2 linked regions of the Homo sapiens genome follow. The gene in region 1 interacts genetically with each later gene. Each region holds a gene or a part of one and is shown in the gene's direction. Other genes may lie near its edges. The genes, in order: MYBL2 and CREBBP.

Region 1 (3,810 bases):
GGAAAGTAATGCTTCCCTAGCAGAATTGTGGGGATTGGAAATAACTTTTGTGAGCTGCCCCAAGGAGGCATCAATGATGAGTGACATCCCATTCACTGCTCTATATTTCGTTCTATAAAAATATCTGCAGGCTGGGTACTGTGGTTCATGTCTGTAATCCCAGCACTTTGGGAGGCTGAGGTGAGAGGATCACGTGAGCCCAGGAATTTGAGACCAGCCTGGGTAACACAGTGAAACACAGTCTCTATAAAAAATATTTTAAAAAATTAGCTGAAGCCGGGTGCAGTGGCTCACACCTGTCATCCCAGCACTTTTGGAGGCCAAGGTGGTCAGATCACCTGAGGTCAGGAGTTCGAGACCAGCCTGGCCAATATGGGTGTGGTGGCACACGCCTGTAGTCCCAGCTACTCAGGAGGCTGAGGCAGGAGAATTGCTTGAACCCGGAAGGCGGAGGTTGCAGTGAGCCGAGGTTGCACCACTGCACTACAGCCTGGGCGACAGAGCAAGTCTCTGTCTCAAAAAAAAGTAAAAAATAAAAAATTAGCCGAGAATGGTGGTACATGTCTGTAGTCCCAACTACTCGGGAGGCTGAGGCGGGAGGATCACTTGAACCCAGGAGTTCAAGCCTGCAGTGAGCTGTGATTGTGCTACTGTACTCCAGCGTAGGCAACAGAGTGAAACCCTGTCTCTTTAAAGAAAAGAAGAATCTATGAAAATATAGATGTATAGTCATAGAAAACTTTGAGGAAATGCATGAAATATTAATGATTGGTCCTGGGCTGTGGGATCATACTTGACACTTAAATATTTCCCGTAATGAATGAGTCCTCTTGTATTAAGAGCATAGTAATTGCAATTCCTAACCTCCCTCCCTGGACAGGACCCTGATGCTTGGTGTGACCTGAGTAAATTTGACCTCCCTGAGGAACCATCTGCAGAGGACAGTATCAACAACAGCCTAGTGCAGCTGCAAGCGTCACATCAGCAGCAAGTCCTGCCACCCCGCCAGCCTTCCGCCCTGGTGCCCAGTGTGACCGAGTACCGCCTGGATGGCCACACCATCTCAGACCTGAGCCGGAGCAGCCGGGGCGAGCTGATCCCCATCTCCCCCAGCACTGAAGTCGGGGGCTCTGGCATTGGCACACCGCCCTCTGTGCTCAAGCGGCAGAGGAAGAGGCGTGTGGCTCTGTCCCCTGTCACTGAGAATAGCACCAGTCTGTCCTTCCTGGATTCCTGTAACAGCCTCACGCCCAAGAGCACACCTGTTAAGACCCTGCCCTTCTCGCCCTCCCAGGTGCGTGGACCCCACTCTGGCTGCTTATTGGGTCGGTACAGACACCTAGTGTTCAGTGCTGGGGCAAGGGTGAGCAAAACGAGACCTGGCTCTGCCCTCATGCAGCTTATGCTCTGGTAGGAAGACCAGGTAACTAAAAAAGACTCAGAAAATGTGATAATCAGGATGAAAGAGAAGGCTTATGGTGCTGCATATGTGTATCTAGTCTGGGCAAGTCCAGGAAGACTGCCAGGAGGAGAAGGAGGATGCTGGTAACTGGGTAATGAAGGAGAGGAAGAGAACTGTCGTGTTTGTTCAGTCCACGTATGGAACCTATTTCACAGCAGACTTACCAGCACTGGGGAGCAAAGATGAAGATGATGGGTTGTCTCCAGCACTGGCTGGCCCTGCCTGGTCCTGGGAAGACCTGGGATAGCCAGTGCTGGGGATGGGCTTGTAATGAATTAACCAGAATAGAGTGTGGGAAGTGCCATGTGATAGCAATTGCGAAGTCACTGAGAACTCACTGTTCTGGGTGTTGCCCCTGGGTGCTCTGTTAGTAACACACAGAGCCTCGGGAGCCGGGATGGGTGCCAGGGTCTCTCTGAGATAGAGGTCATGGGGGGCACCTGGCCTTCCTGCAGAGAGGTGTCTGGGCTGGGTCTCCTTGAGCACCTTGACCAAAGGCACAGAAAAGGAAGGACAGAGTGGATGTGTGGAGTGGTGGGGGGTGGCGCAGGGCCTTGGTGGGCCTAGGTATAACTTAGGGCTTTGGCTCTCATTAGGTTTGTTCTTCCTGTGAGGCTGTGGGAGAGAGCGAGGCCCTGAGGTGGCCTGGTGCAGGAGGCCACCCTGTCATCACGGGTCAGGATGGCTAGTGGCATTTTGAGAGAGACCCTGTGTCGGTTTGCTCCGGCTGCTTAACAGAGTACCACAGGCTCGGTGGATTTGACAAGAAATTCAGCAGTGTTGGTTTCTACTGAGGCCTCTCTCCTTGGCTTGTAGATGCTGGCGGCTCCTGTGTCTTCACGTGGTCACCTGTGTCCTAATCTATTATTTTTTCTTGTAAAACCTCTTATTTTATAATGTTATAAGGACACCCGTTATTGGATTAGGGCCCACTCTAATGACTTTATTTTTTGAGAGTCGCTCTGTTGCCCAGGCTGGAGGCTGGAGGCTGGAGTGCAGTGGCATGATCACAGCTCACTGCAATCTCCACCTTCCAGGTTCAAGGAATTTTCCTGCCTCAGGCTCCTGAGCAGCTGAGATTATAGGCATGAGCCACCATGCCCGGCTATTTTTTTTGTATTTTTAGTAGAGACAGGGTTTCTCCAGGTTGGCCAGACTGGTCTCGAACTCTTGACCTCAAGTGATCCACCTGCCTCGGCCTCCCAAAGTGCTGGGATTACAGGCGTGAGCCACCGCGCCTGGCCTAACTAACCACTTTAAAGGCCCTATCTCCAAGTATTAATACAGTCCCATTCTGAGGTGCTGAGAGTTGGGACTTCAGGATGTAAATTTGGGGGAGACACAGGTCAGCCTGTAACATGCCGCAAGTGAGGGCTGCTGGCTGGAGAAGGAAGGCAGCGGGTCCCTCAGCTACTATTTGGGAAGCTCAGGATGATGGAGCGTGGTCGCTCTACTCCAGAGACCCCATTTAGGGTGGTGACCCTGAGGGTTGCAGATGGCTCTCTATTATAGCACCTTCAGGGCAGGGAGGGAAGAGAGCGGGGTGCTTCAAAGGATGGATGTTGGCTTAGATCTAGATTTCATTCTCACTTCTAGCACTCAGTGCAAGACTCAAAACCTCTCTAAGCGTTGGTTTTCTTATCTGTAAAAGGGGGATAGTAATAGTGCCTATGTCTCAGGATTTGTGGTAACTAATTGAAATTATTTGTGTGAAGTGCTTAGCACTGGCAAGAGAAGGTGCCCTCTAAATGATAACCCCACCGCCACCAGCACACTACAACTGTCACATGCCTTTTGCCTTCACAGGTCAGTTCAGAGCTAGTTTTATTTCTTCTGAGAAGGAGCCACTCTCCCACAGTTGGCTTCCTGTGCCTTAACTGCGTCGTCAGCACTCGAGTAGAGATGGCAAAAGCTAGGATTAGGGTGACGGAAGCCCAGAGGTCTGTGTGAACCTGCTTGGTGGGCTCCTGGCATCGATCTGTCCCAGTCCTTGTTCTCGGGTGTCTGATGGGTCAAGAGGGGACCTCAGTATCAGAGCAGACGTTTTGGGGGAGAGGCTCAAGGATCTCTCCCCATGATCCCCTGAGGTCTCAGGGATACTCATGCAGGTCATCATTTTGTCTTGTTCCCTCTCTCTTCTTTGGCAGTTTCTGAACTTCTGGAACAAACAGGACACATTGGAGCTGGAGAGCCCCTCGCTGACATCCACCCCAGTGTGCAGCCAGAAGGTGGTGGTCACCACACCACTGCACCGGGACAAGACACCCCTGCACCAGAAACATGCTGCGTGAGTGCTGCAGTGCCCCCAACCTTCGCCGTCCTCTCCCTCAGCAACACCAGACCATGGG
Region 2 (3,810 bases), on another chromosome or scaffold:
AGTTCCACCCCAGGAGGGGGCACCTGCCTGTGGCATGGCAGCAGTGGGGTTGTCCAGAAGACAGGCCTGATAGGGGCTCCTGCTGGGGCAGCCTTCCCTGTGCACCGGGGACATGCATGTGTTAGGAGGCGGGATGCTGAGGTGTCGGCATGTAGACCTGCTGTCCCTTGTGTGTTTGGTTCATGGACAACAATGGGCAGGGACATGCCTTCGTCAGCAACACCCCAGGAGCTCGCTCTGGGGGTCAGCCTTAGTGAGGGCTGGTGCGTGGGGTGGAGCACTGCTTTGCTATTAGCTCTGCTCTGCATCATGCTGTCAATTCTGGGAAATGGGGAAAGGCTCGCGATAGTGTCAGGTGGGGCGAGAAACGGAACCAGCTCCCTGTGTGCAGTCCCAGCTTCGTGAGGAATGTCGCAAACACGGAGACAAATGTGCCCAGGGAAAGCTCCAGAACACAGAACACTGCTGCTCGGGAAGACCAGAAAAACAAAACTTTTTAAAATTACTTGTCTATATTTTCTTAATTTCATGAACATATTTATTTTATAATTTTGTAAAAATAGACTTCCAGGCCGGGCGTGGTGGCTCACGCCTGTAATCCCAGCACTTTGAGAGGCCAAGGCAGGTGGATCACTTGAGGTCAGGAGTTTGAGACCAGCTTGGCCAACATGGTGAAACCCCGTCTCTACTAAAAATACAAAAATTAGCCAGGTGTGGTGGCGCACGCCTGTAGTCCCAGCTACTTGGGAGGCTGAGGCAGGAGAATCACTTGAACCCGGGAGGCACAGATTGCAGTGAGCCAAGATTGTGCCACTGCACTCCAGCCTGGTGACAGAGCGAGACTCCATCTCAAAAAAAATAGGCTTCCTTTGTTTTAAGGCTGACACAAAAATTGAGCACAGAGTTCCAGTATATTGCAGCACGCAGTTTCTCCTGTTACTAATGTCTTACCTTAGTGTGGCACATTTGCTGCCACGGTGAGCCATTTGTTGATGTTGATGCATTATTGTTAAGTCTACACTTCGTTCCAATTTCCTCAGTTTTCCCCTGACGTCCCTTTTCTGTCTCTGAATCCTGCGGAGGACCCACGTGATATTTGGGCTCCTCGGGCTGCTTGTCGGTGGGGTGGGAATTTTTTTTTTTTTTTTTTGAGATGGAGTCTCGCTCTGTCGCCCAGGCTGGAGTGCAGTGGCGCCATCTCAGCTCACTGCAAGCTCCGCCTCCCGGGTTCACACCATTCTCCTGCCTCAGCCTCCCGAGTAGGTGGGACTGCAGGCACCCGCCACCACGCCTGGCTAATTTTTTGTGTTTTTAGTAGAGACGGAGTTTCACCGTGTTAGCCAGGTTGGTCTTGATTTCCTGACCTCGAGATCCGCCTGCCTTGGCCTTCCAAAGTGCTGGGATTACAGGTGTGAGCCACCCCGCCCGGCTGGATTGTTGAATTCTCTCTGGACTGACCCCTCTCTTTGAACACCAAGAGTCTCTCTCATCTTGTTAAAAATGAAACTCTCTGGCTGGGCACGGTGGCTCATGCCTGTAATCTCAGCACTTTGGGAGGCTCAGGCGGGCGGATCACCCGAGGTCCGGAGTTCAAGGCCAGCCTGACCAACATGGTGAAACCCCATCTCTACTAAAAATACAAAAATTAGCTGGGTGTGGTGGCAGCACCTATAATCTCAGCTACTAGGGAGGTTCAGGCAGGAGAATCGCTTGAACCTTGGAGGCAGAGGTTGCAGTGAGCCGAGATCGCGTTATTGCACTTCAGCTTGGGTGACAAGAGCGAGACTCTGTCTCAAAAAAAATGATAGGTAGCCGGGCATGGTGGCGGGTGCCTATAATCCCAGCTACCCAGGAGGCTGAGGCAGGAGAATCACTTGAACCCAAGATGACACCACTGCACTCCAGCCTGGCAACAAGAGCAAAACTCCGTCTCTCAAAAAAAATAAAGCTCTCTGTTAAAGTGTAAGTGAGTGGTAATCCTGCGTTCTTTCCAGAGGAGGAGCCTGTGGGCTGAGAGCAAGCCCACCTTCAGCCAGTCAGGCGCAGCACTGATGGCCCCAGCAGGGAGCCAGCCTGCTCTCCGTGGGCCTTGAGTGGACCCCGCAGGGGCCTCAGAGTCCCTGCTCTTGATGGGGCAGCTGCTTTTCCCATCAGCAGCTTTCCTGTCTCCTGGAAGCTCTCATGCTTTCTCGGGTGTGTAGAGCCTTCCTCAAGGCAGACAGCTGCTGACCACAGTTGTGACGTGGAATCTTCCGCATCTGGTTGTGGCACAGTGGAAACAGCCCCCACTGCCCTCATTTGTTAATTTCTGAACTCGCACTCTGGGTCTCTTTTCCCCTTTAGAGGCAGCGTGGCATAAAGCTGATAATGACACCAGCCTGGCCGAGGACAGGCCCTGCTCTGTCCCGAAGGCTGCAGCACCTACAGCCACCTGTAGCCGTTCACGTATGGGGTCTGCCTGGTGGTGACCTACTTTGGCCTGAGCTTCCTGATGCCCACGGCCTGGGAGCTGGGCGTCCGTGCCAAGTGTGGAGGGGCACTTGCCTGGTCTCACAGCCTTGCGTGTTGTTGCAGGGCAGTCAGGGCGACAGCAAGAATGCCAAGAAGAAGAACAACAAGAAAACCAACAAGAACAAAAGCAGCATCAGCCGCGCCAACAAGAAGAAGCCCAGCATGCCCAACGTGTCCAATGACCTGTCCCAGAAGCTGTATGCCACCATGGAGAAGCACAAGGAGGTAGGCGTGGGCTGCGGTGCTGCAGCCGTGCCTCTGGCCGGGAGGAGGGAAAGACTCGCAGCTGGCGGGCGTGGGCCCGTGTGCAGGTCTGTGGTGGGAGGGAAGTGGCCCCCAGGAAACCAAGTGGACCAGTTGGGTGACATCATGCAACGTGTCACCAATTTTGTTCCATCCCAAGGCATCAGGGCCATCAGGCTCAGCCACCTGCCTATTCTGCAGGCTGGGTGGCTGCGCCTGCCCTGAGCTCACCACTGGAGGTGCCATGTCCCTTGTGTGGGACTAAAGCCCCTCCTCTCCTGCAGGTCTTCTTCGTGATCCACCTGCACGCTGGGCCTGTCATCAACACCCTGCCCCCCATCGTCGACCCCGACCCCCTGCTCAGCTGTGACCTCATGGATGGGCGCGACGCCTTCCTCACCCTCGCCAGAGACAAGCACTGGGAGTTCTCCTCCTTGCGCCGCTCCAAGTGGTCCACGCTCTGCATGCTGGTGGAGCTGCACACCCAGGGCCAGGACCGCTTTGTCTACACCTGCAACGAGTGCAAGCACCACGTGGAGACGCGCTGGCACTGCACTGTGTGCGAGGTAGGCCCTGCCCCCACCCCCACCCCCACAGCCGGCCTGGGGTCTGACGAAGCATCCTGTCCCTTTGCATGGGTGCCCGGGTTGGTGTCTGTACCTGATGGTGGCTGCACTGACTCCTCCAGAACTAGGACAGCGTCACAAGGCAGAAGGCGTTGCTGTGTGTGTGTTTCCTAAACCTGCTCTGTGTAGCCACAGCCACAGGCCTGACCCTGGGGACGGCCAGAGGGAGGCTCTGCTGGGAAGTCTGGCCTGTCTGTGCCCAGTTCTAGTCTTGCTAAATGGCTGGAAACACCCGCTGTCCTGTTGGCAGCTTGGGCCCCTCTGGCCACTTGTTCCTGAAGGACCCCCCGGTCATGCTCCCTCACTCCCCTCTAGGAATTTTGACCCCCCTGTGAAATGACGTGGGTGTCCCTTGCATGGGCCGAGTCAGGCTGTGCAGGGCAGGCAGGTGACAGATCCCACCATCCCCCTCCCAGGACAGTCACCATCA

What was found.
Region 2: of MYBL2 (region 1) and CREBBP, changing one enhances a phenotype caused by changing the other (phenotypic enhancement), as found in Homo sapiens cells (one study listed by BioGRID).

What each region holds. Positions count from the first base shown.
Region 1 is NC_000020.11:43,701,610-43,705,419, forward strand, and holds part of MYBL2 (myb-related protein B), read left to right. Parts: intron 1-880; coding exon 881-1,294; intron 1,295-3,609; coding exon 3,610-3,749; intron 3,750-3,810. UniProt on the Homo sapiens protein: Transcription factor involved in the regulation of cell survival, proliferation, and differentiation. Transactivates the expression of the CLU gene.
Region 2 is NC_000016.10:3,730,702-3,734,511, reverse strand, and holds part of CREBBP (CREB-binding protein), read left to right. Parts: intron 1-2,574; coding exon 2,575-2,736; intron 2,737-3,038; coding exon 3,039-3,320; intron 3,321-3,810. UniProt on the Homo sapiens protein: Acetylates histones, giving a specific tag for transcriptional activation. Mediates acetylation of histone H3 at 'Lys-18' and 'Lys-27' (H3K18ac and H3K27ac, respectively).